Regions from separate parts of the Homo sapiens genome. Here all the other regions are reported to be linked to region 3. Evidence: microRNA targets listed by miRTarBase, many of them from high-throughput screens and not tested one by one. Region 3 holds a microRNA gene; each other region holds the end of a gene's coding sequence.

What was found. Region 3 holds the annotated microRNA hsa-miR-548i (AAAAGUAAUUGCGGAUUUUGCC, at 3,450-3,471, opposite strand). A microRNA usually pairs through its seed, bases 2 to 8, with sites in the 3' UTR of a target mRNA and lowers its output. Matches are read on the target gene's strand: a 7mer-m8 pairs with bases 2 to 8, a 7mer-A1 pairs with bases 2 to 7 and ends in A, and an 8mer does both.
Region 1: miRTarBase lists TTC13 as a target of hsa-miR-548i. Seed matches in the 3' UTR shown: 7mer-m8 at 4,026-4,032 and 7mer-m8 at 3,975-3,981.
Region 2: miRTarBase lists AQP3 as a target of hsa-miR-548i. Seed matches in the 3' UTR shown: 7mer-m8 at 3,859-3,865.
Region 4: miRTarBase lists MTMR6 as a target of hsa-miR-548i. Seed matches in the 3' UTR shown: 7mer-m8 at 2,749-2,755 and 7mer-m8 at 3,470-3,476.
Region 5: the mRNA of EFNA5 is a reported target of hsa-miR-548i. Seed matches in the 3' UTR shown: 7mer-A1 at 2,265-2,271.
Region 6: miRTarBase lists SMAD5 as a target of hsa-miR-548i. Seed matches in the 3' UTR shown: 8mer at 4,174-4,181, 8mer at 3,711-3,718 and 7mer-m8 at 3,437-3,443.

What each region holds. Positions count from the first base shown.
Region 1 is chr1:230,902,779-230,907,978 of GRCh38, forward strand. It overlaps TTC13 (tetratricopeptide repeat domain 13), which reads right to left. Exons shown (of 23, transcript NM_024525.5): 23 at 3,465-4,241. The coding sequence ends at 4,127. Among named protein-coding and RNA genes, the nearest start is that of C1orf198, 37 kb to the left of the region's middle.
Region 2 is chr9:33,437,338-33,442,537 of GRCh38, forward strand. AQP3 (aquaporin 3 (Gill blood group)) reads right to left here. Exons shown (of 6, transcript NM_004925.5): 5 at 4,964-5,181; 6 at 3,823-4,874. The coding sequence ends at 4,706. Among named protein-coding and RNA genes, the nearest start is that of AQP3, 7.7 kb to the right of the region's middle. RefSeq lists a silencer at 1,343-1,581.
Region 3 is chr3:125,787,044-125,792,243 of GRCh38, forward strand. MIR548I1 (microRNA 548i-1) reads right to left here and starts at 3,509; the gene lies at 3,361-3,509. The region is part of intron 3 of LOC112267908 (translation initiation factor IF-2-like); the gene reads left to right. The region is part of intron 1 of LOC105374312 (a long non-coding RNA gene); the gene reads left to right. It also overlaps the pseudogene RPS24P9.
Region 4 is chr13:25,244,823-25,250,022 of GRCh38, reverse strand. MTMR6 (myotubularin related protein 6) reads left to right here. Exons shown (of 14, transcript NM_004685.5): 14 at 531-3,801. The coding sequence ends at 791. Among named protein-coding and RNA genes, the nearest start is that of MTMR6, 40 kb to the left of the region's middle.
Region 5 is chr5:107,377,136-107,382,135 of GRCh38, reverse strand. It overlaps EFNA5 (ephrin A5), which reads left to right. Exons shown (of 5, transcript NM_001962.3): 5 at 760-5,000. The coding sequence ends at 881. Among named protein-coding and RNA genes, the nearest start is that of EFNA5, 290 kb to the left of the region's middle.
Region 6 is chr5:136,176,737-136,181,936 of GRCh38, reverse strand. SMAD5 (SMAD family member 5) reads right to left here. Exons shown (of 8, transcript NM_005903.7): 8 at 1-4,600. The coding sequence ends at 4,457. Among named protein-coding and RNA genes, the nearest start is that of SMIM32, 14 kb to the left of the region's middle.

The DNA of each region.
Region 1 (5,200 bases), not on the chromosome of region 3:
GCACAGGGAGCATGAGCTAAACCTCAGTGCGGAGGATCTGGGCAAAGGCCCGAGGGTGGCCAAGACGCCTGGCTCAGGAAATCAGACTGTCCCCCGAAGGGCGAAGGCAAGGAGGCTGGGAACTTAAACAAGGCAATTCAAAACTGCACGTCTGTGTCACCTTGAATGGGCACAAGTTAAACTCTTTATTGGAGCTTGTGAACCAAGTTGTGTTCAACTAAGCTGCCTGTGTTCAAGACTTAATTACATATATATGTGTATATCCAACTTAAAATGTTACAAATATATTTATTGACATATAATTCATTATGTGTTAATTGAAAAAAGTAAATTTTAAAAATTAAGCACAGTGTAGTGTGATCTCATTTTGTATATCCAACTTTCTGTAGACTAGTTTAACTGGTAAAATTTATGTTTACAACATATAAAACTAAAGGGATTCTATATTTATGGGAACATAGTTTGAAGCAAAAAGGGCTACTGTAAATCTAATCACAGCTCTAATATTCAAGAACATACTTGTTTTCATGATATTCTAGTTTGATGTTTCTCAGGTGTGGTTCCCAGACCACTTCTGTGTGAAGCACGTGAGGTTTAGGTGAAGATGGAGATCCCGGGCCTAACCACAGACACCTTGGATCAGAAAACAGAAGGAAACGTTTCAAGCCAGTCTAGAAGTGTTTTTTCTTTCTTTCTCTAATTTGTGCCCCCATGCTGCCACCAAACACTGTGGTTTTGACCCTAAAACCTCCTGGACCCTTGCTTAAGACCACCGGGATGCGCAGTGTGTTGGGTTGGGGGGATAGCAGTGTGTTTGCTTTCAGGATAGCAGTGCTGCTCAGTGGGATGTTCTGTGATGATGGGGCTGTCCCATGTCTGCTCTGTCCAATGTGATAGCTGCTAGCCACATGTGGCTACTGAGCACTTGAAAGGCAGCTAGGGAGACAGAAACAAGCGTTCGATTTAGTTTAATATTGATTAGTTTAGCTTTAAGTAGCTTGGGCTTGGGGGTAACAATGGAGATGGTAAGACATGAATGGATCTGGGATCTTCTTAGAGGTAAACAGGATCGGACTGGATGGTGATCATTTGAAAACTGCAGGAGGGCAGTGTAGACTCTGGAGGCTGCCTGGGTGTCTGGCTGAAGCTGCTGAGTGAAAAGGGAACCATTTCTGACACAGAGAAGCGTGGGGAGAAACAGACTTTGGGTGAAGGAATGATGGGCTCCATTACAGACATCTTAAGATGTATTCATGAACACTCAGATTTTGCTGGTCTGGGACACAGTGGGTTTCTTTAGGTGATTTTGCTGGTCTCTCTTTCTGAGGCATATCAATTTTATTCCATATTTCCAAATTATCAGAGAGTAATGATCACAGAGTTGGAGGTCAGTTTCCTGTCCCTCATACAGTTTCTATACCAAAGAAATTCCACACTAAAGTTCTTAATGTACTAGCAAATTTTGCTCTAGATTTTTTAAAGTTAGTTTTTTTTTTTTTTTTTTTTGAGGCGGAGTCTCGCTCTGTCGCCCAGGCTGGAGTGCAGTGGCGGGATCTCGGCTCACTGCAAGCTCCGCCTCCCGGGTTCACGCCATTCTCCTGCCTCAGCCTCCCAAGTAGCTGGGACTACAGGCACCCGCCACTACGCCCGGCTAATTTTTTTGTATTTTTAGTACAGACGGGGTTTCACCGTTTTAGCCGGGATGGTCTCGATCTCCTTACCTCGTGATCCGCCCGCCTCGGCCTCCCAAAGTGCTGGGATTACAGGCGTGAGCCACCGCGCCCGGCCTTTAAAGTTAGTTTTTTAAAAGTCTGAACATCTTGATCCACAGGAGCAATTTTATCGATAGAACTGTGATACCGAGGTAATAAGAAAGCTATATCTGATCTCTGCCCTCCAGTTCCTGGCACAGAGCTCGTAAAACTCTTGGTATTTTCTGAGTGATCGGGATGAGAAGTGTTTTTTGTTATTAATAAGCACCTTCCAACCATATCTGAATTTATGCTGATGAGATGACTCTTGGAGGATGGGGGTTGGGGGCCAGAGAAACTAACCATGTGATTAGAGGAACTTTCAGTCCTAACCCCCAGCCTCCAGAGAGAAAAGAGGGGCTGAGAATTGACCTAATTGGCAATGATTTAATCAACCATGCCTATGCAATGGAACCCCCATAAAAACCCTAAGTGAAAAGGTTTGGGGGTTTTTGGTTGGTGAACACTTCCAGGTGGGGGGACGGTGGTGGGCCTGGAGAGCGCACGGAAGCTCCATGCTGCCCCCCCATACCTTGCCCTGTGCACCTCTTCCATTTGGCTGTTCATGTGTATCCGATATAACAAATCAGTAATAGTAAGTAAAGGGTGTCCCTGAATTGTGTGAGCCATTCTTGCAAATTATCAAACATGAGGAGGGAGGGTGTGATGGGAACCCCCGAGTTATAGCCAATCAGTCAGAAGTACAGGAGGCCCTGACTTGCAACTGGCATCTGAAAAGGGGGCAGTCTTGTGAGACTGAGCCCTTAACCTCTGGGGTCTGTGTTAACTCCAGGAAGTTAGTGTCAGATGTGAATTGCAGGATCCCTCCCCACTCCAGCTGATATATGGAAAGCTGCATAATTGGTTGCTATGCGGGGAAAACTCCATATATCTGGTATGGGAACTCTTGCGAATAAAAACAGATCATAGTAAGAGCTTAGCTACTCAGGCAAGTCTATAACCACAAATTCAAAATGATATTAACTTACACTGGGAGACCACCATTCTGGATTATTTCTGTGGAAAAACCTTTAAAGTCTCACTAGGAACTCTGTAGGCTGCATGGGCCAATATAATAACCACTAGCTACATGCAGCTATTTGAATTTAAGTTAATTAAAACTAAATGTGAAACTCAGCTCCTCAGGCATACTAGTCCTGTTTCAAGTGCTCAGTAGCCACATGAGGTTACTGACTACCATACTGGCAGCACACAGAACATTCTGGAATGTCATCACAGAATTTCTATCGGACAGTGTCAAGCTAACTGTAAGGTTCTCAAGAAAGGAAAAGGCTAGGGGAGTTGATGGTGCAAACAAAGGACAGTGTGGGGAGTAAGAGATTCAATCAGAGAAACACAGCCACGTCAGCTAGGCTACAGCAGGAGACTGCGTTTCATTTTAGGACAAAAGGAGGCTGTGGGGTTTAAACCGAGCAGCAGCAGGAATATGAGTCAGGAGACTCCGGAAGTGGTCCAAGAGAAATTACAATGGACAGGGAGAAGTGGCCAAGCAAAGAGATGGGTGTGCATCCTGTAGAAGGGAGAGAAGAGCAAGCTTGCTAATGGATGGTGCCATTTGGAAACAGCAACAGTTTTAATTAACTCATTTTACTCACTGTCATTTACCCTGTCTGGGAAAAAAAACAAGAGAGACTTTCTGAATGTTCTTATACCTGAAAGTGAAACTGGTTCACAAAATAAACACATACATAATCCAATGCCAAAAACTGGTGATTTATAGAAATCACCCTGGTTTATTTTTTTCAACAAAGGAAAAAAAAACATGGTTCAATAATTCAGCATTTGGGACTCTGGCAAGTACTGTCTGCATTGTTCAAAATAAGTGTTCCTGGCTGTGAGCTCTGCAACACATACTGATGGCCCAGGAACCTTCTTCCATGGTTCTAATAAAACAAAGGACCCACACATGGAGGTTACGTGAGTCAACAAAAGATGCTCTATCACAATGTGCGTAAAAAGCAAGTCTTTGAAAAATATCCAGATCTCTAAAGGAATACAAACACTCCTATTTGGTTTTGTTTTTGTTCATCTTCAGTATTATATTTTAGTTGTTGAGGAAAATTTTTTTTACTGTAAGGAAGGAGTTATATGACTTTATAAGTGGGAACCAACAGGCTGCCGGCTAATACATACGCTTTCCCTCCAAGTCAAGTAGCTTTTTCCCCCCGAAAGCCTCTTTCATGATTTTCATTATGGTTCAGAAAAGTAAAGAAAATGATTTCAAGTATTCAATTCCTATAAAAATTGGTATCAAAAGTAATAGAGGACCTAATTTCTTTATAATTCCATGTTTTAAAAAATAACTTAAGAAGCAAGAGGTCCGGCCCTTTACTTGTATAAATACAGCAGCAGAACTAGAGTTTCTTAAGACAACGTGGAGAAGAGTCTGTGTTTAGCACCTCAATCATCGATCTTAACGTTGGAAACGTTTCTGATACTGATGGAAGAGTCTTATAAGAAGGTGAAATACTGAAAAAGAAAAACACAAAGTAGCGGCATGAAAATTAACAAAATTTGCAAAAAAAGGGCAGAGCTTATATTTATTCCTATCATTATATTTATTATATTCATGTTGTAATATCAAACAGTGTTAGAAAGGCAGGGAGGAGCTGTGAACAGAATGGCTCCTCTCACAACAACGGCCTGCGGCATCAGCCAACACGTTACAAGTCGCTTGGAAGTTAAGCCAGAGCTTTGAAAAAGAAAATTAAACTCTGATTTACATGTCCAGCTGTGGTGCATGCTGGGCTTGGAATCAAAAGACACAGGTTTCAGGTCCAGCTTCACTCCTTATTAGCTTTCTTTACTTCTCTAGGCTGCACTTCCCTGATCTGTCACAGGGACAGTGTTCTTAACTCGCAAAGTTACCATGAGCTCTGAATGAGATAAGGTATTTCAAGGTACGCTGTAAAGCGTTAACTGCAGGATGTAAGGTAGCATTGTTATTCTTTCCTTAAAGAATTGTCAAAAGATTCACACTGTACAATTATGTAAGAATAGAAGCAAGACCTTCGGCCTGGTGGTTGTATTACTAAAACATGTGCAAACTAATAAGCCTGAAACAACAATGTACCAGGACAAGGTGTAACTGTTAGAAGCTTTCATTGCAAAGCTAAATTACAAATTGAGCAATGGTAGACTACAGGCACAAATATTTCTGTTTTAAACAGAACATAAATTACCCAGCAATAGAGTGGTTGCTATGTCAAATAGACGTGAAAGGCAAAACTGGGGGTGGTTGGGATGTAAAAAACCAGGAGAAGGGGCAAAAATAACTAAAGTTGAACAGTGAGGCTTACTTATTCTTCATTAACTACTGAGGCATCTATGAGTTTAATTTCACACACTTCAAATTCACACAGTCCTCTCCAGTGCTTCTGGAAACAAGAGCCAGGAACGATCATGGTCTGCTAGACTCCTCACACACA
Region 2 (5,200 bases), not on the chromosome of region 3:
ACCTAGGTTTTCAGAAAAACAAAATCAAGAGGAAAGAGGAAGGAGGGAGCTCATTACCAGGAATTAAGGAGGAGGCCTGCCCTAGGGGAACACAAGTGAGACTTGGCTGGCAGGCAGAGATATGCACTGAGTACATGGAGGTGTACTCAAAGTACACTGAGAGAGGGGCTCAGAGGAACATGCAGAGATGTGATCTGAGGGTCACAGTCCAGGATGTTCACTCAGAGGTACACAAAGAAAGACCCAGACACAAGGCTGGGCACTGTGGTTCATGCCTGTAATCCCAGCACTTTGGGTGGCCAAGGCAGGTGGATCACCTGAGGTCAGGAGTTCGACACCAGCCTGGGCAACACGGTGAAACCCTGTCTCTACTAAAAATACAAAAATTAGCTGGGCGTGGTGGCATGTGCTTGTAATCCCAGCTACTCGGGAGGCTGAGGCAGGAGAATTGCTTCAACCCAGGAGGCAGAGGTTGCAGTGAGCTGAGATCACACCATTGCACTCCAGCCTGGATGACAAGAGTGAAACTCCATCTCAAAAATAATAATAATAATAATAATAAAAGAAAGACCCAGACACAAAGAGTCAGGCAGTAAGAGATACTCGGAAAGAGACAGAGACATGGTCTGCCAGAGGTTTGGACCCACAGAGACATAACCAGATACATTGAAAGAAAGGCACAACCAGAAACACTAAGTGCATTTGCTTGGGTGCACACACACACTGAGGCAGGCACACTAAGAAACAGGAACCAAGCTCAAGTTTCACAGAGACTGATTTTAACCCAAGCAGATCTGAATTTTAAGGAAACATGAGCTCCTCCAAAGTGGGCTGTGGAGATGGCTCAGCACAGGAAGAAGGGACAGAGGTGAGATAGGGGATGCAATTCTCCCTTCATGTCCTCACCAGAAAATGGATTACATGGAATGGGAGAAGATAACTTCCTTTTTTTTTTTTTTTAGACAGAGTCTCACTCTGTCACCCAGGCTGGAGTGCAATGGCATGGTCTCAGGTCACTGCAACTTCTGCCTCCTGGGTTCAAGCGGTTCTCCCACCTCAGCCTCCCAAGTAGCTGGGACTACAAGCGTGTGTCACCACGCCCAGCTAATTTTTGTATTTTTAGTGGAGATGGGGTTTCACTATGTTGGCCGCGCTGGTCTCGAACTCCTGACCTCATGATCCGCCCGCCTCGGCCTCCCAAAGTGCTGGGATTACAAGCGTCAGCCACTGCGCCCGGCTTTTTTTTTTTTTTTTTGAGACGGAGTCTTGCTCTGTCGCCCAGGCTAGAGTGCAGTGGTGCGATCTCGGCTCACTGCAAGCTCCGCCTCCTGGGTTTATGCCATTCTCCTGCCTCAGCCTCCCGAGTAGCTGGAACCACAGGCACCCGCTGCCACGCCCAGCTAGTTTTTTGTATTTTTTAGTAGAGACAGGGTTTCACCGTGTTAGCCAGGATGGTCTCGATCTCCTGACCTCGTGATCCGCCCGCCTCGGCCTCCCAAAGTGCTGGGATTACAGGTGTGAGCCACCGTGCCCGGCCGGGAGAAGACACCTTCCTAAAGGAGATGAAGAGTTGTTTTGCTAGAACTTTCTGACAGCCAGAACTGCTGGTGGAAGGTACACCTGGAGGTGGGGTGAGGAGGTGGGGAGCTTCCCTTCTACCCCTGGAGGGGTGACACAGCTGCTGCCTGGCTCATGTCCCTTTCAGCCCCTGCCCTGACCCACTGCTCCTGGTCCTGGCCGGGCCTTACCCTCTCTCACATGGCCTGACCCTCCAGGCAACACGTTCCCTTGGTTGCGGCCACGTGCTTCTTTGCCCTGCATCCTGTGTGTGAGCCCCTCTTGTCTCCCCTCCATCTCTCCCAAGAGCCTTCTGAAGTCAGGACACAGCACGCTATCGCCCTCACACTTCCTCCCTCCCCTTTCTCGGGAAATTCAGAATCCATGGAAGGAATCTGAGGAGGAAGAGGATATTGAATTCAATGACCTTTAAAAAAAACAGCCTTTAGCATCCTCCCTCCACTGCCTCCCCACCCCCATCTCTGGTTCTGCAGGAAAAATCATGAGGTGACATTTATTGAGGATTTACCATCTGCTAATCACTGTGTTAAGTCCTTTCCATGAATCATCTTCCATTATTTCCTCCTCTCAATATCTCCCAATTCACAGATAAGGGAGGTTCAGGAAAAGAACATGACTACCCCAAGGTCACCCAGCTAGAGAATCCTTGCTGGGCCAGGTGGCAGCACCAAAAGTGCTGCCAACACCCCCTAGGCTGACTGGTCAGGGTCAGCAGCAGGATTTGAGAGAAATGGGTGACAGAAGGACATGGGGCATGCTGGGGAGGACAGCAAGGTGAGGGCAGCCCAGGTGGGACTGGTGTGGCTGGAATGACCCTCTGCAGCCGTATTCCCCTCCCAAGGTTTGCCCTTCCTCCCCCCAGGGCCTGGGAAGGGGACACTCCCTCTGGCTCAGGTCCCTCCAGCATTCCAGACACGCCTCTTGGGAGCTGGGGACAAAGAAGGGATAGAAACCTAAAATGGTATTGCCTTCTCCTGCCCTCACCTCCGTAGGCAGATTCTTGGCTGTGTGACCCTGTGTTTGCCACCCGCCCTCTCTGGACCATGATCTCATCTGTGAAGGCTGGAGAGCAAAAGCTGGCTTAGCTTCTAAAAACCACAATTCGCCTGCCACACCCAGGGATCCTCTGGCTCCCATGGGGTTCGCTCAGAGGAGGGATTGGGTAGGGGATGCCTTCCCTTGTATTGCATGAAGTTTCCCTTGATGAAACTTGAGGAGGGTATGGTAAGGAAGAAGCAAATGAGAAAAGCTTCCTGTTCTCAGGTGTGCCGAGCCCGTTGCTTTTCTGGGCAAGTCAGAGCGCCAGAGTCAGTCTTCCAACCCCCTGCCTTACTGGGCACAGAGGTGCCTCTGTAGAAGTGAAGAAATGACTGAAGAAATGAAGCAGAAGGGGAGATGAGCGTGAACGCAACTGCGGGTCTTGGCACTTAAGACAGCTGACTAGAAGTTGCTGGAAGAGTGAGGCAGAGCAGGGATGGCTTCCCGGAGGAAGAGGCGTTAAAGCAGATCATGAGGACTTTAATGAGCAAAGATGTGAGTTGGGACTTTGGAGCAAAGTCTGAAGACACAAAAACACAGAAACACATAAAGTAGGCTGAGGTGGATGGAGCCATGTGAGAGGAGGGGTAGGCTCCTGACCCTACCTGGAGGTCCTGAACGCCAGATGGAGCATTGTGGATGGTCTCCAGATGGGCACTTTCAGCAGAGGTTTTGAAGAGATCCCTCTGGTTGCTTTGTGGACTGACTGGGGCAGGCCTGGAGGCAGGGAGGCTGCCAGGGGGGCTGTGGCCAAGGTCTGGGTGGAGGTTATGGAGCCTGAATAGCTGCAGGTTGTGGAGGACAATACAGGTTCCCAGTCTGATGGGTCTCCTCCAGGAACAGGGAACTCACCACCTCCTGGGCAGCAGTTCTCCCCATTGGGTAGCTCTGCAGCAAGATCTTCCCTGCATAGGGCTCAAGCCTTTCTGGGGTGATGTGTGGGTACAGGGATTGGGAAGAAGATTCCATTCATTATGCTGGGGGTACCCATGAGGACGGAAACTTGGGGGAAAGTTTGGGACCACTGAGTTCAAACTGAGAGCCTTGGTGAAGAGGCTCTCTAACCTCTCTGTATGACCCCCAGGGTAACCTGACCAGATCAGACACTCAGCCGGGCACCCTGGGTCAGTGTGGGCATGCGGAAGCTCCTTAACTGGCCCCAGAAAAGCAGCAGAGCAAGCAGAAAGATATTTGCACAACTGGAGGTTTTAGGCACATATTTATTTTATTTTTTTTAATATAAAAGTAAAAGAGTACATTGTTGAGTAGAGGATTAAAGGAGTGACGACCCTTTCTAAAGTGGGGTCTCCCATCCCGGATCCCTAAGACTGTAACATCTGCTACATACATTAAAAACAAAACAAAACAAAAGCAAACATGAAACTTATGACCTGACTTCACTCCACCCTTCATGCCTGCATTATGACAGAAACACGTCCCACTGCTCCTACTTATGTATGTACATCCAGAGCTCCAAACCTAAGCTGTGGCCCCCTCCTCCCAGCCCTACCCACATCCACCCTACTTCCCAAAAGCCTGTAGAAGCCCCCACTTAGAAAAAAAGGCAGACATACACATACACAGAAACACATATCTATCTGCAGCTCCTCCATGTGAAGCCCCTGAAACATACACACCCTGGAACTTTCCTCTCCTTATGCACAGATGGACAGGCTGCCTTCCCCTGTCTCTGGGCTCCCCCAATAGCCAGAATCCCTTCCGACTGGTCCCTTGCCCTGAATATCTGGGAACCCCCCCCACACACACACACCCCTGCACACACATGCACACACATGCACACACATGCACACACACACATACCTGCTGCCCATTCTCTTCCCTTGGGAGACAAAAGGATGTATTGACCCAAATTCCGGTTCCACCCCAGCTTAGGGGCAGTGGCCTAAGGTGCTATTTGGGCAAGGTCCAGTGGAAATCCTGAAGGGGCTGTCTCGTGGGGTGAGGGTAGATAGGGAGCTCCTTAGCCTGAAAGGGTGGATCGTGAAGGGGGCTTCTTGGGAGTGGCCCTTGGACAGTCAGTGGATGCTCAAGGCCAGGGCAGCGGAGTGGGGAGATGGCCCCTGCCCACTCAGATCTGCTCCTTGTGCTTCACATGGGCCAGCTTCACATTCTCTTCCTCGTTGGAGGGTGGGGGCTGCTCCAGGTGGCAGCCGATCATCAGCTGGTACACGAAGACACCCGCAATGGAGCCCAGGAGTGGGGACACGATGGGCACCCACCACCAATGCTGGCCGGTCCTGGGGGGACAGACACTCATAGTCAGGGACATGGGGGGCAGGGCAGAGGAGAGGCAGGCTGGGGTGAGCTGGGTGGGGGCTGTACTCACGTGAAGACTGCAGAGCCCCAGCCCGCAAGGGCTGTAAAAAGGCGGGGGCCAAAGTCCCGGGCAGGGTTGACGGCATAGCCGGAGTTGAAGCCCATGGAGGTGCCAATGACCAGGACCACCAGGCCCACGGTGAAGGCCTCCAGGCCTCGGGGGACGGGGTTGTTGTAGGGGTCAACAATGGCCAGCACACACACGATAAGGGAGGCTGTGCCTATGAACTGGGGAGTGGGGAGAACA
Region 3 (5,200 bases):
GAGTATTTGGATACCTATAATACAAAGTAGATTCAAAAAGAATGACTTGATTATTTTAAATGTTGTGTTTTAAAAAATTTAATACAGAAAAGGCTGGGCATAGTGGCTCATGCCTGTAATCCTAGCACTTTGGGAGGCCAAGGCGGGTGGATCATTTGAGGTCAGGAGTTCAAGACCAGCCTGGCCAAAAGGTGAAACCCCATCTCTACTAAAAATATAAAAATTAGCCAGGCAGTGGTGGTGCGTTCCTGTAATCCCAGCTACGGGGGAGGCTGAGGCAGAAGAATCGCTTAAGCCTGGGAAGCAGAGGTTTGGTGAGCTGAGATCGTACCACTGCACTCCAATGTGGGTGATGATTGTTTAACCACCACCAAAAGGGATTCTGAGTCCAAATATTAATATGAAGGACATTGGTGACATTGTCTCAAAAAATTAATACCGAAAAGTACAAAAAGGGAGAGAAATCACCCCAAATCTCATGACCCCAAGAAATAAACCTCCATAATATTAAGTGAACAGCATTCCTTGCTATGCACAAAGATGGCTAGAGACATGAACAGATACTTCTGATCACACAAAATGAGATTTTAAAAACAAGAAGTAGCAAATTGAATGCTGTGTAAATTTATCAGAAGAAAAAGAAATGGAAGTGAAACTGAACGAACTGGTCAACTCAGATAAATGTAGTTTTTCCTCACTAAAAATCAGTTTCTAGAACATCTAAGAAATCAAAGATGATGAAAAATATTAAGATGTATTATATATATGTAGAAGTCTTTACAGTTGACTGATCATCTCATGAAAAATTTGTACAGTCACTGCAAATAAAGTCATTGCAAAATCTTTACTCCTTTTGCTTTTTGCCAGCACTGACATTGGCCTTTGCAGTCTCTTGACTTCATTCTGCCCTTGCATTCCTTTTGCTGTTTTTTTGAGGTCATCTTCTTCTCATGCCAGCCGTGTCTTGCAAGTCTATGTTTGAGTTCATTTTTCTTTGCATAATTCAAAGAACCAGATAACATGCCAAAACCCATTGTTTAACCACCACCAAAATGGGTTCTGAGTCCGACTATTAAGATGACACCCATTGTGGTCTTGTACATTTTGTTGCCTTCCTGGGGTGAAGGACATTGATGACCATTTGTTTCCTCTGTAGCAGTCGATTGGTCACGAACTTCCTGGTCCCGATAGTTACTGTGTCATTCATCATGGTGGTTGATCCTCAGGTAGTTAGGGAGGAAAATAAAAAAGAAGTTATATATTTGAAACCACGTTTCAATTTTAGACCTGATTAATTGGCTTAATAAAGGGCATTAGCACTTCTACTTCCTACAGTCCCTCCCTTTACCTCTGGAAACTAGTTATTTCTAGGTTGTTTTATGTTGTTAAGGTTGACCACCTTTTCTTTCTGTTCTGCAATAGTAGTCCTATTTTTAAATGGATTCACCTCTCATCACTAGCCTTTTGTCATGGTCATTCAATTCACAAGTTGCTTATTTTGTAATTTCTTGGCTGACTAAATTTTATTATGAAGACTTTTTTTTTTTAAAGAGCTCAGAAATACTGTATTCTTTAAGTTCTTGAACATGTGATAGTGTCTTTTGCCTATTTTGATTGGGCAATAATTTACCTGGCTATAAAATTCTTGGATTATACTCTATTTCCCTTAGAAATTATAGGCACCCATCCACTGACATTTCATTGTGTTTCTTTTTTTTTTGAGATGGAGTCTTGCTCTATCACCCAGGCTTGAGTGCAGTGGTGCAATCTCGGCTCACTGCAAACTCTGCCTCCCGGGTTCACAGCATTTTCCTGCCTCAGCCTCCCGAGTACATGGGACTACAGGTGCCTGCCTCCATGCCTGGCTAACTTTTTTGTATTTTTAGTACAGACGGGGTTTCACTATGTTAGCCAGGATGGTCTCGATCTCCTGACCTCGTGATCTGCCGGCCTTGGCCTCCCAAAGTGCTGGGATTACAGGTGAGCCACTGTATGAGCCCAGCCTCATTGTGTTTTGTACTAACCCCCTTTCCCTGGCCTCTTCCAGCTTGTCTTCTTCTCTTCTAGTAGTTTCTTCGTGAAGAGGCCATGTGCTATATTCCATGAGATATTTCACACTCAAAGAAGACTTCTTTTATACTCTTCTGATAATTTGTCTGGGAATCATTGTCTTGATTTATAAGGGAGTTTGTAATAAATACAGTAAAAGAGAAACACACAACGTATTTTGAGATATCAGAGAAGGGAGAAACCAATTCTATTAATATTTGGGGTTTGCAGGGAAGGCTTAGTTAAGAGGTAACATTTGAACTAAGCCTTGAAATAAGGGAAGGATTTGGACATGCAGTAATGGGGAGAGAGTAGAAGCAAGACATGATGGTTAGTGTTATGTATCAATTTGACTGGGTTGTGGGGTGCCTAGATATTTGGCTACACACTATTCTGGGTGTGTCTCTGAGGTATTCTGGATGAGGATAATGTTTAATTGGTAGACTGAATAAAGCAGATTGTCCTCCCCAATATGGGTGAGCCTCATCCAATCCACTGAAGACCTGAACAAAACAAAAAGGTAGAGTCACAGAGAATTTGCTCTTTTTACCTGATTATATTTGAGCTGGGACATCAATCTTCTCCTGACTTTAGATGTGGACTCGAGTTGGAACTATATCATTGGCTGTCCTGGGTCTCCAGCTTGCTGGCTGCAGACTCCAGGACTCCTTAGCCTCCATAACCATGTGAGCCATCCCTTACAACAAAACAATCTGTCTCTCTCTATGTGTATAGCTCTACCTCTATCTCTCTGCTCTTTCTCTGGAGAACCTAGAGTAATACACAAGGTTATATTAGAGAAGAGGATGATCCAAGGAAAAGCATGGAGGTGGAAAAGTGCAAAGAGCATTTGGGAAGACTGGGGTCCTGATGGGGAGTTTGGATTTCACTGTGTGTAGCATAGAGAATCCTTGAAAATATTCAAGAGGTGAAAATTGTATTTGTGGAAGAACACCAGGAGTATGTGAAAAGAAAAACACTCACTCCGTTTTAACTCCACCGAAGTGGGCATCAAAGGGATGCACTGGGGACATGGGTTGGAGGGTAGTTGAGGCCATATCTGGAGGATCTTTACTTCTAGGCTGAGTCTGAAGTTATCTTTCTGGGGAGTGGGGGATTACAAATCTTTGAGCTCCACTCAAGAGATGGTTTTGCTAACAATGGCAGGGCGACGGTGGTGGTGGTGGGAAACTGGTATCATGAATTCTAACTGGGCTTCTGTTATTCTAGCCAAGAAAGTTGGGGAATGGATTTTCAGTAGAATAATACAGATCTGGGAATCAACTGCATGGAGGAGGTAGTTATAGGTGATGAGATGGCTCAGGGACAAAGTTTGGTAGAAGGAGAAAAGATACTAGGCTGGTACAAAAATAATTGCTATTTTTGCCATTACTTTTAATGGCAAAATCCGCAATTACTTTTGCACCAACCTAATAGGGTGCAAACTTCAGAGCCATCTGCATCAGAGGGATTGATGAAGATCAACAAAGTTTGGGAACACAGGAAAGGAGCGGGGAGGGTAATGACTTGAGGGCATAGCAGGGATAATCAAGGTTTTTCTTGTTAGCATGTGGAGACTTTAGCATGATTATATGTTAAACGCCTGGCACATACATGGTGCAAAATATTTATGAGTGAAATGACAAGTGAAGGTGGTGAGTCATGGGAGTTCCAAGGAAACGGGTGATAAAGGGAGGTCTCAAATGAGGCACAAGTGGAGAAGGTAGCTTGGGAAAGGAGAAGGATGCTTCTCCTTATAAGATGGGAAAGGCAGAGGAAGAGGGTCAAGATACAGTGATCTAGGGGTGAGATGGAAGTGAGTTGAGAGAACTCAACTCTGGGCCCTGAAACCCCTAGGGATGGGTTTGGGGGACTTTGAGATATGGAAGAGGTTTAAAGTCAATTGTTATAGCAAATATGGTTCGGAATTTATTTGTAATGCTTAAAAATATTGCTGAACAGAAGTGAAGTCTACCCTAGAGTTGGATGGTGAGATTATTTAGTGGAACTACCAGATCCATGTTGTGATTCTTTCCAGTATCATTCAGCAGCCCTTGGGCAGTTGCAAGGCAAGTCATCAGTGGGGTATGGAAATTTTCCAGGTGGGTGTGGTTGAAAGCAGGGAAGAAAGAGTTTAGGAGCACATTACAGGAAGGTGACTGTAAGGTCCAGGCTGAGCAGGAAAGTAAAGCAAGAAGGAAACATGAGGTTGTGAAGAGAAGTCTAGAGGGATGAGGAGGCAGGAGTGGTGAACAGTTGCAGGATGTAGCTAGAGTGGCGATGTTAGATCTTGGGGCCAGAGAGCTTTACAATGATTATGAAGATCAAAGGACATCAGAATCAAGCTATAAAGAGCCACTGTTTGATGGGATGTGAGGATGCTGCAGGTGGATATCTGCACATTGATGGTGAGAGTATGGTCACCCTGGCCCTGCTGGGTCTTTGCTAAAGAGACTGTGCTCTGTTCTTGGGGCCGTTTTCATCACCTGATTAGAGCAGTGGTCCCCAAATGGTGTTCTTTGGACCATCTGTACAAAATGTTCATAGGTCAAGTATAAAATGGAAAAACAGAGAAAATGTCACAGAAATGTGTCCATTGGTGAAAGACCACCAGCTGTCCTTTTTGGAGGATTGTTCTGTATTCTAAAAATGTATATATTCTATTCTATTAAAACATTTTTGTATTTGCATTTTTTCTCTTTTATGAAATGCCATGGGGTAGAAATTTGTAATGTATCCAATTCTCCTGTCTTCATGCATTGCCCTGTGGTGGGGGAGGGGATGTGGCTAGCACTGGCCAAGAGGCTGGGGGCAGAGGTGCAGTGTGAGACTTCTAGCCTGGGTCATTTAATTCTTAGTACAAGACTCTCTAGCATTCTTCTCCCTCTGTTCCCTGCTTGGTGATACTCGAGGTAATGCAACCCCCATTAGCCTTAGTCTTAGGGCAGGTTTGATGGAAAACAGAGCATCCCATACCTCCCTGCAGATGTAGCATGAGTGAGAAAAACAACTTCTGATGTTTGAAGTTACCAAGATTTAGGAGTTGTTTGTTATTGCAGCAAAACCTCACCTATTCTGACCAATCATGTTGGAATTTCTGTGTGTGTGTGTGTGTGAAACTGGTAGTTTAAAAAATTTCCTTCTTACCAAA
Region 4 (5,200 bases), not on the chromosome of region 3:
ATTTGGAGAGCATGATACTCTGCCACAGGACACTTTAAAAATCTTCTGTTAAAAAAGTAAAGTTCTGTTGTGTTTAAAGTCTGTTATTTTTACCTAACAAACCACTGTAGGAAAACCATGTAAGAAAAACTCTATATAGTCAGTGAGCCCTTTAGCTACACAAGTTTGTTTGTTGTGTTTTCAGGGTGAATGTTTCATACACATTTCTTTTATTATAAATGTTTACCTGTTATGCTTTCTAGGTAATATATGTCCATTTTAAGTGTGGAAGCCTAGTGATCGCCTGCAGTCAAGTCTTGCTGGATTGTTTGTTTAATAAATATAAAAACTAACAATTTTCCACAGCAAAAAATTGTACACAATTAGGATTTTCAACCATGTCATATGCATTAAATGTTTCTACTTTTTTGAGATTTAGTTTTGCATTATACATACAGAGAACATATTTTGCAAAAGCATGTTTTCTTTTTTCATGTAACATATTGTGGCTTATGCAATTAGTAATTTTTTCAAATTTGTGTTTGTTCTAGAAAATTAAACAACGCAAAAATAAGCAAACAGATGGCATCCTCACCAAGGAATTGTTACATTCAGTTCATCCTGAATCACCTAACCTCAAAACTTCCCTGTGTTTTAAAGAGCAGACTCTGCTACCCGTAAATGATGCTCTTCGAACTATAGAGGGCAGCAGCCCGGCAGATAATCGTTATAGTGAATATGCAGAAGAGTTTTCTAAATCAGAACCTGCTGTGGTCAGCTTAGAGTATGGTGTGGCAAGAATGACTTGTTAGACTCATAGAGTTTTTTCTGCAATGATTGCAGTACAAGAAAAGGATTATTGTGAGGATGGTCTGTAAGCATAACCAAAAGGAATTTGTCTAATAACAATTTTAGGGTTTAACAGTAGGCTAATAGTTGAAGGAAGGATAATAACTACCCTTGTGAGAGAAATAAGTCATTTTAATTGCATTTCCAGCAAGGAATGACATTCAGTTCTGTAAGAAATGAGTGGTATTTGATGTATTTACTCAAAACACAATTTGCACTGTACACTAGTGAATTGACGTTTATGATTTATGTTAATTCAGCCAAACATAAATAACCTTCCTTAAGTACAATTTAACTTCAAGAAAACAAAATTTGACAACATAGTTTCTTAATAAATGATATGGCATGTACTTTCAATTATGTAGCTTTGTAACTATGAATATTTACATATTTTGCCTTTTAGTGATATTTAATGTTAAAGTGCCATGAAAAATATTTCTAAGAAAGCCTTAAATTCCCAGTGGATTCTTTACCCTTAAGTTTTACAGCCTACAACAAGATTTTTTGTTTTGTTTTTCTTCTGGTCAGCCTTGTTTTGTTTGTAAAGAATTGTGCTCTCATTACTGCTGGGGGTGCATGCTACAATACTTCTATATAAACACTTGTAGAAGTACACTGTTCACGTTTAGCCTGCCCCACTTTTGTATTCAAAATTAATGAAACTGAAGGTTTATTCTGATCATAATTTGTTTAGTGCTACATTTGATAATTTATTATTTACAGCTTAGAATATTGATTTCTTGAATACGTATAAGCACATTTGACTGTCTTTTATATATGGATTACTGCATTCCATTGATTCTTATTTTGTGGTTGGCTTTATTTCTTTCACAACTGTGTAAGTTTAAAGAGCTAAAGCTCTAAAACTGTTCTGAGAAACAATGAATAGTACATGTATATGTATATTTTTAAACTGCCTTATTGCTCAATGAGTTGCTGTTCCTGGAGTATCTAACTTTCAGTTTACTCAAAAACTTTTGGGTAAATAAAAAAGGGAAGTACAGATAGTTTAGGTTGTGCATGGTTGCATGAATTTTGAAGTCATTTCTATGTGGAGCATTATTTTTCTTCTTGTTAAATATAGAAAAAAAAAGAGATTCTAGTACAAAGTTACTGTTTAACAAAAGCAACATAAACTCTGGGAAAGATTTCATTTTGCCATGTTATATTTACTGTTTATTCTGTGTACTAGTACATATCTTTAAATTACCAAAAAACAAGAAACAAAACATAAAAACCCCAAAACTATCACTTGGAATTAGCAATATCACCCAACTGGCTTTAAAATTGAAAATTTAAATAACATGGTGGCATGAAGTACAATTCGAGTATTAGGCAATTTGCATAGTGTTCCTCATGCTACTTTCTGTTACACCTCTATTATATTAGTTTTGAATATAAACATCTTTTTCAGACCAAAAAAAACTTTATTGTATGAGAGCTTATCTTATCCTGTTTATTTTTCCAATGCTTTTCTGTAATACATTATGTAATTTAAAAAATATTCCTTTTTAAACAGCAACAGAAATGCACTATAAAATATAGTATGTGATTAACCAATCCTGCTTCCATATTTAAGCACTGGGAATGGAAACTTAATCTCTGTGACTACAAAGGGAAGTTTTTGTGCCTTGGTGTTCCAGTCACTGATTGTGGTTTTAGAATCTTCTGTGGCTGACTTCTTGTATTCAACTCTGGTTTATTATCTTAATCTTCAACTTCAGACATATATTTGTGTGTTTATATGCTCACAGGTGGACTGAGAAATCAGTTACATCTTAAGTGACCTACAGGGTATATGTTGGCAAAAGCAGACTGTGTATATGTCTTATAAAGTTGAATTTATGTTCAGTGTGTTTGGAAGTGTATAGCATGTAAATTACTTCATATATGATTTAAAGGTAATTAAATGTTCACATTTTACTTTGAATGTTTTTCTTCTGGATAAAACAAATGGAATCAAGTTGTAGTTGTTTTTTTTTTCTTCTCACCTAGGCAAGTAGACTTGCCCATTACATTAACATAACAGCATAAGGTTTGAGGAGTTTATTTTCCAAAAGTTTGTTGATAAATAATACCTGTTTCATACAAAAATAATTTCCAGAATATTTAAAATAGGTATAGTGGGCTAAAAGGCCCATCAGATGTAGGTAATAATGTCATTAAGTTTTCATTTTGTTCCTGTCACTTGCTTATATTACAATCACTATTTTTTTGTGCCCTTGCCAACTTGATGGAAGGCAGGGTCCATTGAGTACAAACATTCGAGGTGAAATGTCTCTCCAAAGGCAGATCTGGATGTAAATATGAGGAAGAAAATAACTGGCTGACAAGAGGATAATTTTATTGAGGGTGTTTTGAAAAGGTCAGCTAGGCTAGAAGTAGCTCAGGGAATCTTGAGTAAAGATGAAGGGAACTCTTTTAAAACAAATTCAATTTATTTGGTCGGGTAGCAGAGCAGGGAGGTGGTGTCAGTCAAGCCTGTTTTGAAACATTTTTTGCAGAAGGTCAGCTTTAAAATATTGAAAAATTTCCAGTTGACATGCTAAGTTGGATTAAATGCTGATCATTTATAAAACTATATAGTTGCTGCAAAAGTAATTGGGGCTTTTGCCATTGAAAGTGATGACAAAAACCGCAATTACTTTTGCACCAACCTAATACTACAGTTGCAGACTTTTATTAGTGACGCTGATCTTCATTAGTCAAGTTTTAGTTATTTTGTTGGCTTTTCCATGTAGAATTCCAAGTGACATTAACATACTTTGATTAATTAAAGAAAATTTGGAGACTGTTTAAGATATATGTCTAGATATCAATGTAAACTATAAGCTTTAGGAACTTACATCTAGAAGAAAGCCTGGAATCTAGAATAATTATCTCAAAAAAAAGTATATATACCATTGTACTTGATATAAGAAAATGTAAACATGAAACCTTGACATTTTAATAAACAGTATTTGTGCTACTCTAGTTATTTCTAGGAAAGTAAAATATCCATTTAAATGGCAACTTTTATAAAATAGTGGCCTGCATAACTGAAAGGAACTTTCAGAAGCTAGTAGTAGACTCTATAGCCCTGGTGTTCAGTTTCTGATTCAGTAGTTAGGGGTTGGGACTCTGGAGTTAAAATCATTTGCATACCAATAAATTGTTTGCACTTAGCAATATTTTGGATATTGTGATGCAAATGGTTGGGGAATCATACTTTGAGAAACACTGCTGTAAACCACCCATCATGGTCAGTAAACATCTTGTTTGTTCTTAAAGGGATGCCGAATTATTCTTTTTTTTTTTTTTTTTTTTTTTTTTTTGAGACGGAGTTTCACTCTTGTTTCCCAGGACAGAGTTAAAGTGGCACAATCTTGTCTCACCACAACCTCCGCCTCTGGGTTCAAGTGATTCTCCTGCCTCAGCCTCCGGAGTAGCTGGGATAACAGGCATGCACCACCACACCGGGCTAATTTTGTTGTTTTAGTAGAGACGGGGTTTCTCCATGTTAGTCAGGGTGGTCTCAAACTCCTGACCTCAGGTGATCCACTGGCTTTGGCCTCCCAAAGTGCTGGGATTACAGGCGTGAGCCACCACGCCCCACCTCAGAATTACTCTTGTATAAAGAGCAACAGGCTAGGGAGCATCACACTTCTGAAACATTGTGATACAAGTGGGAGTGAGAAATAAACCTTTGTTTTAAGCCACTGAGAATTTGGGCTCTTTGTTACTGTGGTGTAAGCGTGCCCCTCCTGAGGGATGAAACCATTTGTACAAATTTCTGTTTTTCCATTAGTTCCCAAATGGCCTTTGTCCTGCTATTTTGCGTCAGTAGCCAGCTGAGGTTTGTGCATTGCATTTGGTTGTAGCTCATCAGTCTCTGTGTTGAACAGCCGGTCACCTCTTCCCCTCTGCATTGACCTTTTGCACCAGACCAGTTGTAGTTTTCCCACTTTCTGCTTTTGTCTGATTGTTTCTTCGTGGTGTAATTTAACTTGTTCCTCTGTCTACTGTACCTGCTGTCAAGTAGGTACTAGATGAAATTCAGAGTTAGCATTTCAGGAAAGATGCTGTGTACTTAATATTGAATTACTGCGGGAGGATATAATGCCAGGTGGTTCCATTGTTAGTGACGCTAAATTTAATCACTTGGTTATCTTTTCATTGTAAAGATACATTTTTTCCCTTTGAACTCAGCAAATGCTCTATGGGGTGATATTTTGGCATCAAATTGAATATCCCTTTCCTTAACAACCTATCCATTAATTATACTTGCCCAAATCAGTTATTTCTTTGGTGTTACAAAATGCTGATTCTCTAATTTTGTTTTAACTTTTTACACTTATTTGCCTGCATTTGTTTGTTTGTTTGTTTGAGACAG
Region 5 (5,000 bases), not on the chromosome of region 3:
CTTAATCTATTTTATTTAGAGGAAAATTTGCATCCACGCTGATAATTTATGTGCCAAGCTTCAGCCCGATAAAAATAAAAATAGTCAAGTTCAAGTAATTTAATCTTAGAAATACAGGGTTTGTAATAGAAATAGCACCATAATTGACACCTAATTGCAGGCAAACTAGTGGGCATACGTTTATTGAAGTTTACTAGGCATGATGTATAGTTTATCCAAAATGCTGCTGTTTTGGCATTTAGTTTTTCATGTTTGAAAATTCGTCTAGGCATCCAACAACCAGGCATTCAACACTAATCCTATGAAACAGCTAAAAGAAGGGAAATGGGCAGCGCATTCTGGTTAACCACTACTGTGCCAACATAACTGCCCCTTCCCCCACCCCCACCAACATGTCACTTGCTTGCCTGTGACATCTTAGGTTTCAAAGGTACATTCAGATATCTGAAATTTGTGCAAGGCGTGTCTGACTGCTGGCTAACCAAAGCAGCTCACAGGCCAAAGGTTACGGTGTATGCATAATTTTTCCCCTCAATTTTTAAGGAAAGTATTAATATTGCTGAGAAAGTCCAATTTTCTTTGCCTCTTCTTTGTTTGCTGTAAATAATGAGTGATTATGCAGACATGAAAGTCAATGGTGGCACAAGGTTCATTACCCTACTTTGCAGAGGGTGGCGAGGTCTGTTAACAGCAGGCTGCTGCAAGAGAGTTATTAAGGATGTGAAATCTCATTGGAATGTGTGCTTTCTATTTGAACAGATGACACCGTACATGAGTCAGCCGAGCCATCCCGCGGCGAGAACGCGGCACAAACACCAAGGATACCCAGCCGCCTTTTGGCAATCCTACTGTTCCTCCTGGCGATGCTTTTGACATTATAGCACAGTCTCCTCCCATCACTTGTCACAGAAAACATCAGGGTCTTGGAACACCAGAGATCCACCTAACTGCTCATCCTAAGAAGGGACTTGTTATTGGGTTTTGGCAGATGTCAGATTTTTGTTTTCTTTCTTTCAGCCTGAATTCTAAGCAACAACTTCAGGTTGGGGGCCTAAACTTGTTCCTGCCTCCCTCACCCCACCCCGCCCCACCCCCAGCCCTGGCCCTTGGCTTCTCTCACCCCTCCCAAATTAAATGGACTCCAGATGAAAATGCCAAATTGTCATAGTGACACCAGTGGTTCGTCAGCTCCTGTGCATTCTCCTCTAAGAACTCACCTCCGTTAGCGCACTGTGTCAGCGGGCTATGGACAAGGAAGAATAGTGGCAGATGCAGCCAGCGCTGGCTAGGGCTGGGAGGGTTTTGCTCTCCTATGCAATATTTATGCCTTCTCATTCAGAACTGTAAGATGATCGCGCAGGGCATCATGTCACCATGTCAGGTCCGGAGGGGAGGTATTAAGAATAGATACGATATTACACCATTTCCTATAGGAGTATGTAAATGAACAGGCTTCTAAAAGGTTGAGACACTGGTTTTTTTTTTTAATATGACTGTCTTAAAGCATTCTTGACAGCAAAACTTGTGCTCTCTAAAAGAAGCCTTTTTTTTTTTTCTAGGAGGCAGGTTGGGTGTGGAATGCTAATACAGAGCAGGTGTGAAAACAGAGAAAACTACAGGTTTGCTGGGGGTGTGTATGTGTGAGTGCCTCTAATTTTTTTGGTGACTGGGCAGTGCACACCAGATATTTTTTCTTTGAATACAGATCACCATGGTGCTACAACTTTTTTTTTTTTTTTTTTTTTTTTTTTTTTTTTTTTTAAGAAACTCAAAGAGGCATTTTTATGAATAAAGTGACCTTCCCCAAGGCTGACAAGCCAGGGTTGATGAGTGCATAGTGGAATAGCTTTGGATACTCCTCTGGGGGATGACATGTACCAAGGAGAGGACCGCAGTGGCCAGAGGAGACATGATTTGGCTTTGCTGGAGCGCCAGTGTGCTGTGGCCTTTCCCCGCCTCCCACCCTAGTACCCACGTTTTGCTCCACACTCCTTGACCGCAGGGGCTCGGACACAAACCCCTGTCACCAGGAGAGTCAGTCAGCACTACTTGGGAGGGCTAAAGGGAAATTTGGAAATAAAATTCCAAAGTTTGGAGTAAAAAAATTCAAGTGTTGATTTTATATTCTTTCCCTTTCTGACACAGCCTAAAGCGTAGGGGGAACATGTGTTTATCTGTGGGAGATAAACAAGATGGAGTCCCAAAGACTTTAACAAAATATTTTTTTAAAAATCCACTAGAATAGAAAATACATTATTTAGATATACTTTATGCTGAGAGTGAGTATATATGCTTGTCCTATTTAAACTTGTGAGAAAAAGTGGTATCCCTTGATACATTTAGAAATATGGGGGCTATCTTGTTTCATTGTGGGGGTGGGGCAGAAGGAGAATAAATGCAGGATGACCCTGTTGAAGGAATCTTAGCATGGCCAACAGGGGACGTTTCCAGTCGATTACCAGGAAATGCAAGCCTTGGGGTTTCTACTGGTGGTGGGGCTGTCATGAACTTTAAAATCCAAAGCCTAGACAAGGAAAAGTGTTAGACCAATTGAAAAGCAATCCAGCCCTTTTTTTTTTTTTTTTTTTGGCTTTGCACGACATGTCAACAGAAACCATGCCTTTCAATATAAGAAATAAATGTGATGATCATGTAAAATGTGAAAAATTGAAAGCATTCCAGCAAAATAAGAATTTTTTATATATTTGTTTTTTAAGATGTATATGTTAAAAAAAGAGAAGGTCGCATTATGGACAGACTTCGTGAATGGGAATTTGCTTAGAATTGTGAGTAGTTCTGAATTAGAAAAGTATGTGAAGGAAAGGCAGCTGTAAACGTATTGTGCCCTGGAGAGTTGTACACATGTTGAAATGTAATCTGGGCTTACCTGATCCATTTGGAGTGGATGTCACTGCCGAGTCTGTTCTCACATGGAACCATGTGTGTGGGGTTGCCAGCCTCACAGATACAATCAATCCTATTCCCCTCTGACATAAGGAACTCCTCTGGAGTGGCAGAGTCTTATCACAGAAGGCAGCCACCATTTCACCAAAACAAAAGTTCACGGCATTCAATTCCTTTTTCCTTTAGCTATTTATATATGCAGTACTCTCAGTCATATGCAGAAATACTTTTTTTTTTTTAATTAATAGTTACAGGCTTGTTGGTCCAGTGGGATTTGGGTAGGGGGAGAAAGATACCTTCTAAAATGGATCAATAGAACCAAAATAATACAGCATGTTCTATAACCACAAGGAAATCAAATGATCCTGTCATGATTCCAGTTAGTCATAACTATGTTAGCAGTGCTAAATGCATTTTAGAAATGGTGACTTCTGTGGTTTTCCTAGCATTTGTCTCTAACAAATGGTGAAATAATTACTCATGGCCCTCTCTGCCATTGTCTTTCATTTTTTCACAGTGAAATTAGACCCCTTTACTTCACCATTCTGCCACTGCAAATTAAGTATAAAGAAAATAGCAAGAGTGTCCACACCAGTAGACAGTAAGCTTCTCTACCTGTAAGTGATGAAATCATAGCTAATGCACTTGCCATGGAGTTTTCAAGATGATTGGTGTCAGACAGTTTTCACTTTGTTTAAAAAGTGTTGGTGGCCTTTTGTGGTGGTGTTACAATCCTCTGGGGGCTTAGGAGGATGTTGATGCAACTTTTAGAAGCTTTTAATTTCAAAAACAACTCAAAAATCTGAAGGACAGTCATAGCTGCCACTCAGCCCCAGTTAGTCAAACCCCAGTGACCTTTGCCCCTGGTTGCCAAGGGCTTTGCAACATCAAGCAGGGAAATAAGGATCTGTCTGTTTAGTGGATACCGTGTATCCTTTAATAGACCAGGTAACAGTTCGTGTTAGTTTAGACTATTGTTTTGTACTGTACTTTCTTGGGTGGCAGAGGAAAGAAAAGTAAAACATTAAAAAAAAAAAAAAAACTGCGTTCTTTAAATTCTGTATTATTAGCAACCTCTGTTGTACATAGTGTTTGATAATAAAGTATTAATTTGATTCTTATGTCTTTTGTAAGTGAGAACAATAGACTTTCAGGATACAAAACATGCATTGAGGCTTTGAAACATCCAATGTGTACCATGGCTGAAAAAAAGAGTCACAAGTGGCTGAGACACTGCTCCATACAGGACTCATGTGTGGTCATTGCCCACCCAATCTTATGACTCCATCATCTTGGGACCTGGAACAACATGACTTTTTTGATCGATATTTTGTCCTCGGTGTTTTCAAGGTCTGATGTTGGAGCCCTGTGGCCCACCCTCCCTTCTCCACCAGCATGTTGGTTTGAAAAGGATAGGGAATTTAGAAACAGTTCTGTACTTTGGTTTGGTTTGGTTTTCTGTTTGTGATTGTTTTCATGGACTGTTTTATTTTTTCCCAGGAAGAGTCTTTATCAATATCATGTGCAGCTCACTCATGGAAATGGTTGCAAACCAATCAGTGTAGGAAGCTTAAATGGGGCTGTTTCCCTCTCTGTGTCGTTGTGAAAGGAAGAGTCACACAGTACCTGTGGATTTTCAGGGACTCTGTTTTTCTCCGGTGCCTTAGCAACGGCAGCAGCCATTTGTATTATTTTCAAATAATTAGAAAAACAGTTTTCAACTCCTCCTTTCCATTCATTGCTCTCAGAGTTGTGGTCACTGACTTTTCTTTTGAAAACCGCCTCCACCAACACCCCCGTTTGCCTACACCACCCCCCTTTTACTTAGTATGTTTATTTTTTGTGTGTCTCTTGCCTTCCTCCCACGTTTTATTTCCCCTCAGAGCTGTGAATGGGCAGGTCTGTCTCTGGTTTGGCATCACTGAGTTTTTCCCATGCATTGGCCCCAGGGCTGCTAGGATGTGAGACAAATCTCCCTACAATGGGCTTGCTCCCATTGTCTGTACAGTTTAATAGATGCTGGCATGTCGGAGGTTACCCATGAGTCAAAATCCGCTCTCCATGCTTACTCTTGACACCCCATTGAAGCCACTCAT
Region 6 (5,200 bases), not on the chromosome of region 3:
CTGTTTTACTGCAGTTGCTACTAGCAATTATTATATAGCATGTGCTCTTCAAAACAGAAATAAAAATTGATGTGTGAAATCCCTTTCATTGGTTTTGGTAAACCATCCAATTTTGGGCTGTCATTTCAATTATAATACAGTTGTATTTTAAGAGAGAAGATAATCCAATATAACAAAGGCTTGATAAATATTGTCACTCTGTAATCAGGACATACTAAACTGTAATTCAGCGAATTCCAAAGAACTTTCCAGGTTTCTGTCCAGCAGGTAGAATTCTTTGTTTATGCAGAAGAAATGCCTTCAATTCTCACATTCGATTCAGGCATCTTGTGTGATAAGAAAAGCTCCTAAGAATCTTACTTATATCAATGAGAAAAATGCTGCTGCTCTGGGAGACCTGAGATTACTCCCCAAAAAGCTGCCCTAATAATATCTGATACCACCTATAAACCACCACTTAGGAAAACTCTCTCCATAAAAATCACCAAACACTTCTAAAACCACCAGGCTACCTACTACCCTAAGATACTTGCTCATCTAGCTGAACAATATAACGATGACACACATTTATATTCATACCCAAGAGATTAGGTGAGGATTTAACTAGTAAGACAAAGAAGGGATCTGACATTCTTTAAAGTTAAAATGTAAGTCCAAAATATAAGTCATCACAAAAGGCTGAACTCAGTAATTATCAAAAAATTCTTCCTTCCTCATGAAGTAAAAAGGATATTTATATATTTTAAGTGGCAAAGGTGATAATCATCCAAAGTACTATTAAGCAATTGATTAGAAAAAGTATAAAGAAATAGATCTAAATTGGTACATCAGATGTTCTCTATCACAGAAGTACAGCACTTTGATAGGTACTATCAAACTTTTTAGAGTTTCTCTGCTGTTGGAAGAATTTCATTTTTTGTATAAACATTCTCTTCCAACAAAATACTACCACACAGGGGAAGGAACTGTTCCCCACAGGTACCCTCAGGTAATATGGAAGGTTTTTAACATGAACCCCAGTTCTAATCTTGACAACAGATTTCAGGTATGAGTACTTAATAATCACTTCACATCCTGAAGGATATCTTACTCTCAAATGTTATGAAAGGTATAAAATAGCTACATCCTCTATCTGTGCCATTAGATGTGGCTTGTTGAACTGTCTAGTACTCTTACTCTGGATTTCACCTCAGAAACCCAACCAATTCTATTATTTTTTTTATATAGCAACAATACAATGTGAAAAATTATTTATATTCTGACACACATATTTGACATTTTGATTGACGTCTTCCTTAAATCTCCTCTTAAAAAGAGGGTTAGTTTTAGCAGATCAATAACACGCCTACTAGTTTACATTTCACGTCAGCCAGGCAATACTGACCAGACCAATACTGACCAGACCATAAATATTATGTAGAAATGTTAAGCAAATGAATCTCTTATATCTTGCTTTTTGCCAATCAATATCTTTTTGTTGCTTTAATTCATTACTGAGATTTCATTCTATTCTGCTGTTTGCATTACCAAACTGGTTGCAATTTTATTATTCCCAGATTCTGTCTTTTCAGCCAGCATAAATATATTGTACATGCTATGTGATTATTCTAGTGGTGCTAGAATTTTACTATAAAACATTCTGTAGATTAAATTAAAACATATAACCATAATTTGCTAAAATGGTTTCTTTCAGAGGTACTTTCCTTTCACTAGCCAGTTTTTAAAAATCTTACTAGCAAATTTTATCTCCTATACATAGATATATGAAAATCCTTAGGGACTGTAAGAATAGCTGGACTGAATAAAATTTTCATTTAAAGTCCAAGGGTGGGGAGTTGACAACTTTTAGGAGATACAACAGGCTTATAGTTCTCTGTCAAACTCTTAGTTGTTAATAGCTTTAGTACTGTCATTCATGAGACACAACTCCTAAGAGAAAACAAAGAAAAGGCCAATCACGTAAGATCTTGTTAACTCAAGACTGTGACATAATGACCCCAAATAAAAACAATTTTTAATTAACTCACAGTAGAAAACACCAATAAAACAACTCTCTAATTTCCACTAGTTTACTGCAGCCCAATGAAGTTGATTACATACATCAGTCATTCAATTGGAGTAATTTTTTCCTACAAATTTGTTCCAGAGATCATGCCATAAGCCTGGTTAAGTAAAAGAATGATGAAAATGCCAAAGTTCTATCAAGTAAGCAAATATTCTCTTTCGTGTGGCAGACAGAACTCTGGAAGAAACAGAATGCATGTCATGTAATACTTACATTTAAGGCTCAGGTGACTGTCAGAAAGTATTTCTTTTACCCAGCAAAGAACTGTGAGCTGAAACACAAATGGCAGTTCATCTGAAAGAACTAAAACCATCCACTGGCTGCACATTGAAAAAGCAATAAATAATGACACAGAAAACAAAAGAAATTGCATAATTCTTTCCTCGAAAATGCTTTTTTTTTTCTTCACAAGAGCAGAAAGGACAAAGTGGAAAGTCAAACCAAACTAACATTTTAAACAGAAGAATGATATGACTCCATATACTTTCAAAAGGCACCAGAAAATAAAGCTTTCACTGATAGGTAAATTAGGTCATTTTTTTTTTCCAAAATAATTTCTTCATTCTCATGTCATAATTAAGTGTCCATTTGACAGCTCCTGAGAAAAAAACTGGTTCAAAGTTCTTTATCCAAAGCCAAAAACATGATTGATTAAATGGATATTTTGGAGTTCGTTCATGTCTTTTCTCTCTAAAGATTGTGTTTTGGGAGACTAGCTTCCACATAAGTACTTAAAAAATGGAAAAAGAGGATCATCGATAAATGAGAGAAGAGTCTATATTCGTTGATGGGTGAGTGTTTTGTTTTGTTTTGTTTTTTGAGGCAGAGTCTCGCTCTGTCGCCCAGGCTGGAGTGCAGTGGTGCGATCTCGGCTCACCACAACCTCCGCCTCCCAGGTTCAAGTGATTCTTCTGCCTCAGCTTCCCGAGTAGCTGGGACTTCAGGCACGCACCACCATGCCCAGCTAATTTTTGTATTTTTTGTAGAGACAGGGTTTCACCATATTGGCCAGGCTGGTCTCAAACTCCTGACATCATGATCTGCCTGCCTCAGCCTCCCAAAGTGCTGGGATTACAGGTGTGAGCCACTGTGCCCAGCCGAGTGTTTTAAAATCAGCTATCCCTACATCCACTGCTGATTCATTTAGTATCAAATCAGTAGCCTTATCCTTGGGGCCCAACTGAAGAGCCTCCTACGGCTCCAGTGCATAGGTCCTTGCGTAGGGAGGCTGATACAAGTAAGCTGACACTTGTAAGAGCAATGGGATTAACTACATGATTCTCCAGCACTGATAACACCCATAAAACTGTAGGGAATTAAAAAGGCACCTTAAGTTGGAGCTATAGAATAACAGTCTTATAACCTAGGTTGAAAGTAAAACAAAAACCAGAAAAAAGCATAACTTCCTACAAATGTAATCTATAAATTGCAGTGTTTGTTAATACAAAAAAGGTACCAAGGACGTAAGGATAAGCATCTAAGTCCAAGTCACTTGAGTGTATTTTATCAAAGGTTATGCTAAAAACTGTCACCCATAAAAGTGCAAAATAAAAGATTAATGCATGTCAAAAATAGAGTTCTTGCAACATTGTCCAAAAGCAGCAAACATAGTTGAACAAGGCTGTGCATGCACTGTCACTAGCTATAAAGTAATGCTTATGACAGATTTTGAGTAAATGACATATACTTGAGATCAGTTATTTGCAAAAATTTTTTTAAAAAAGGAAATGTCTTACAAAAGATATATAGCATGAAGTCACATTACACTGAAGAACACTTATCTGTATTAAATGTAAATTTTATGTCATCTAGAAAACTATCATTTTGCTTTTACTGAACACTACCAGTTACAGCAGTGCATAGTGTTCATTCAAATAAAACTTTATAGTTTCTTTTAAGCCCCTACCATACACTTTTGCAAAACAATGAATTGTACTTTTTTTTTTTAAGTTGGTGGGACAAAGAAACTGGTAAAAGTACAGCTTCTGGAAGATCGAGAGTAGGAGGGAAAACTTACTCTTCACTGTATATGCCCTCTTATAAGCTACTATAATTTTTCATCATGTGATGCATTTTCAAATAAATTTAATAAAAAATTGTTAGGGCAATAAAGTAAAAGCATGTTCCAGTTTAAGATCAATGCCAAATTTCTGAACTGGGGCATAATACTTACTCTGCATCTTTTACAACACTTCTAAGAGTTAATCACATGAACATGAATACAAACAAATGTAGATTCATCACAAAATACAAATGTATTGGTCACAATTATGTAGAAAAAAATAAGCTGTAATATCTGTTTTCAATGTAAGCTCACAGTATCTGTACTCAAAGTTTCTCTAAAATTAAAACAAGTCCACTAACAATATAATTGAAAAGAATACTTCTGCATTATGAAACAGAAGATATGGGGTTCAGAGGGGAGCCCATCTGAGTAAGGACTTTATCCAGCCACTGAAGAGGCCCATGAAGATGAATCTCAATCCAACATGGGGTGCTGGTTACATCCTGCCGGTGATATTCTGCTCCCCAACCCTATGAAAATGAACAGATATCATCACAAATCCCTCTTTAAACTGTCAACCACTCTAAACCAATTTTACCATAAGAAAAAGATAGCTTTTAACAGTAGAGATATGTAGAAGTTACATAAAGAGAATAACTATCACAAAACCAGTCTTAGTATTCACCATGAAATTAAAAGACAACAGCTACATTATTTAAAGATTCATGAATTCTAAAATAATATATAATTCCCTTAAAAGAAACCCTTAGAGCCAGTTATAGTTCATAATTTTTTTTAATCTTAGAAAGGTAACACAGTACAGTATCTCATAATTAAAACAAATATTTCTGATCTGAGATACATTCTCCCTTAATGGGATAAATGCAAAATAGAAAATCACCACTAGAACACCACAGTAATAATTACTGTAGACAAGATATATTGAAGAATGCAAAAATTGTGGGTAAAATATAAAGGAGAAACAGTGTATTTACATAGCCCCAAAGAATCTGCCTGCAAATATTTATAAATACCATTTTCTCTTAATTTCTTTGTAAGACTTAATGACTATTTAAAGGAAAAATTTTAACTGTATTATAAGATATAATGTGCAGATGTAAAATTTATGA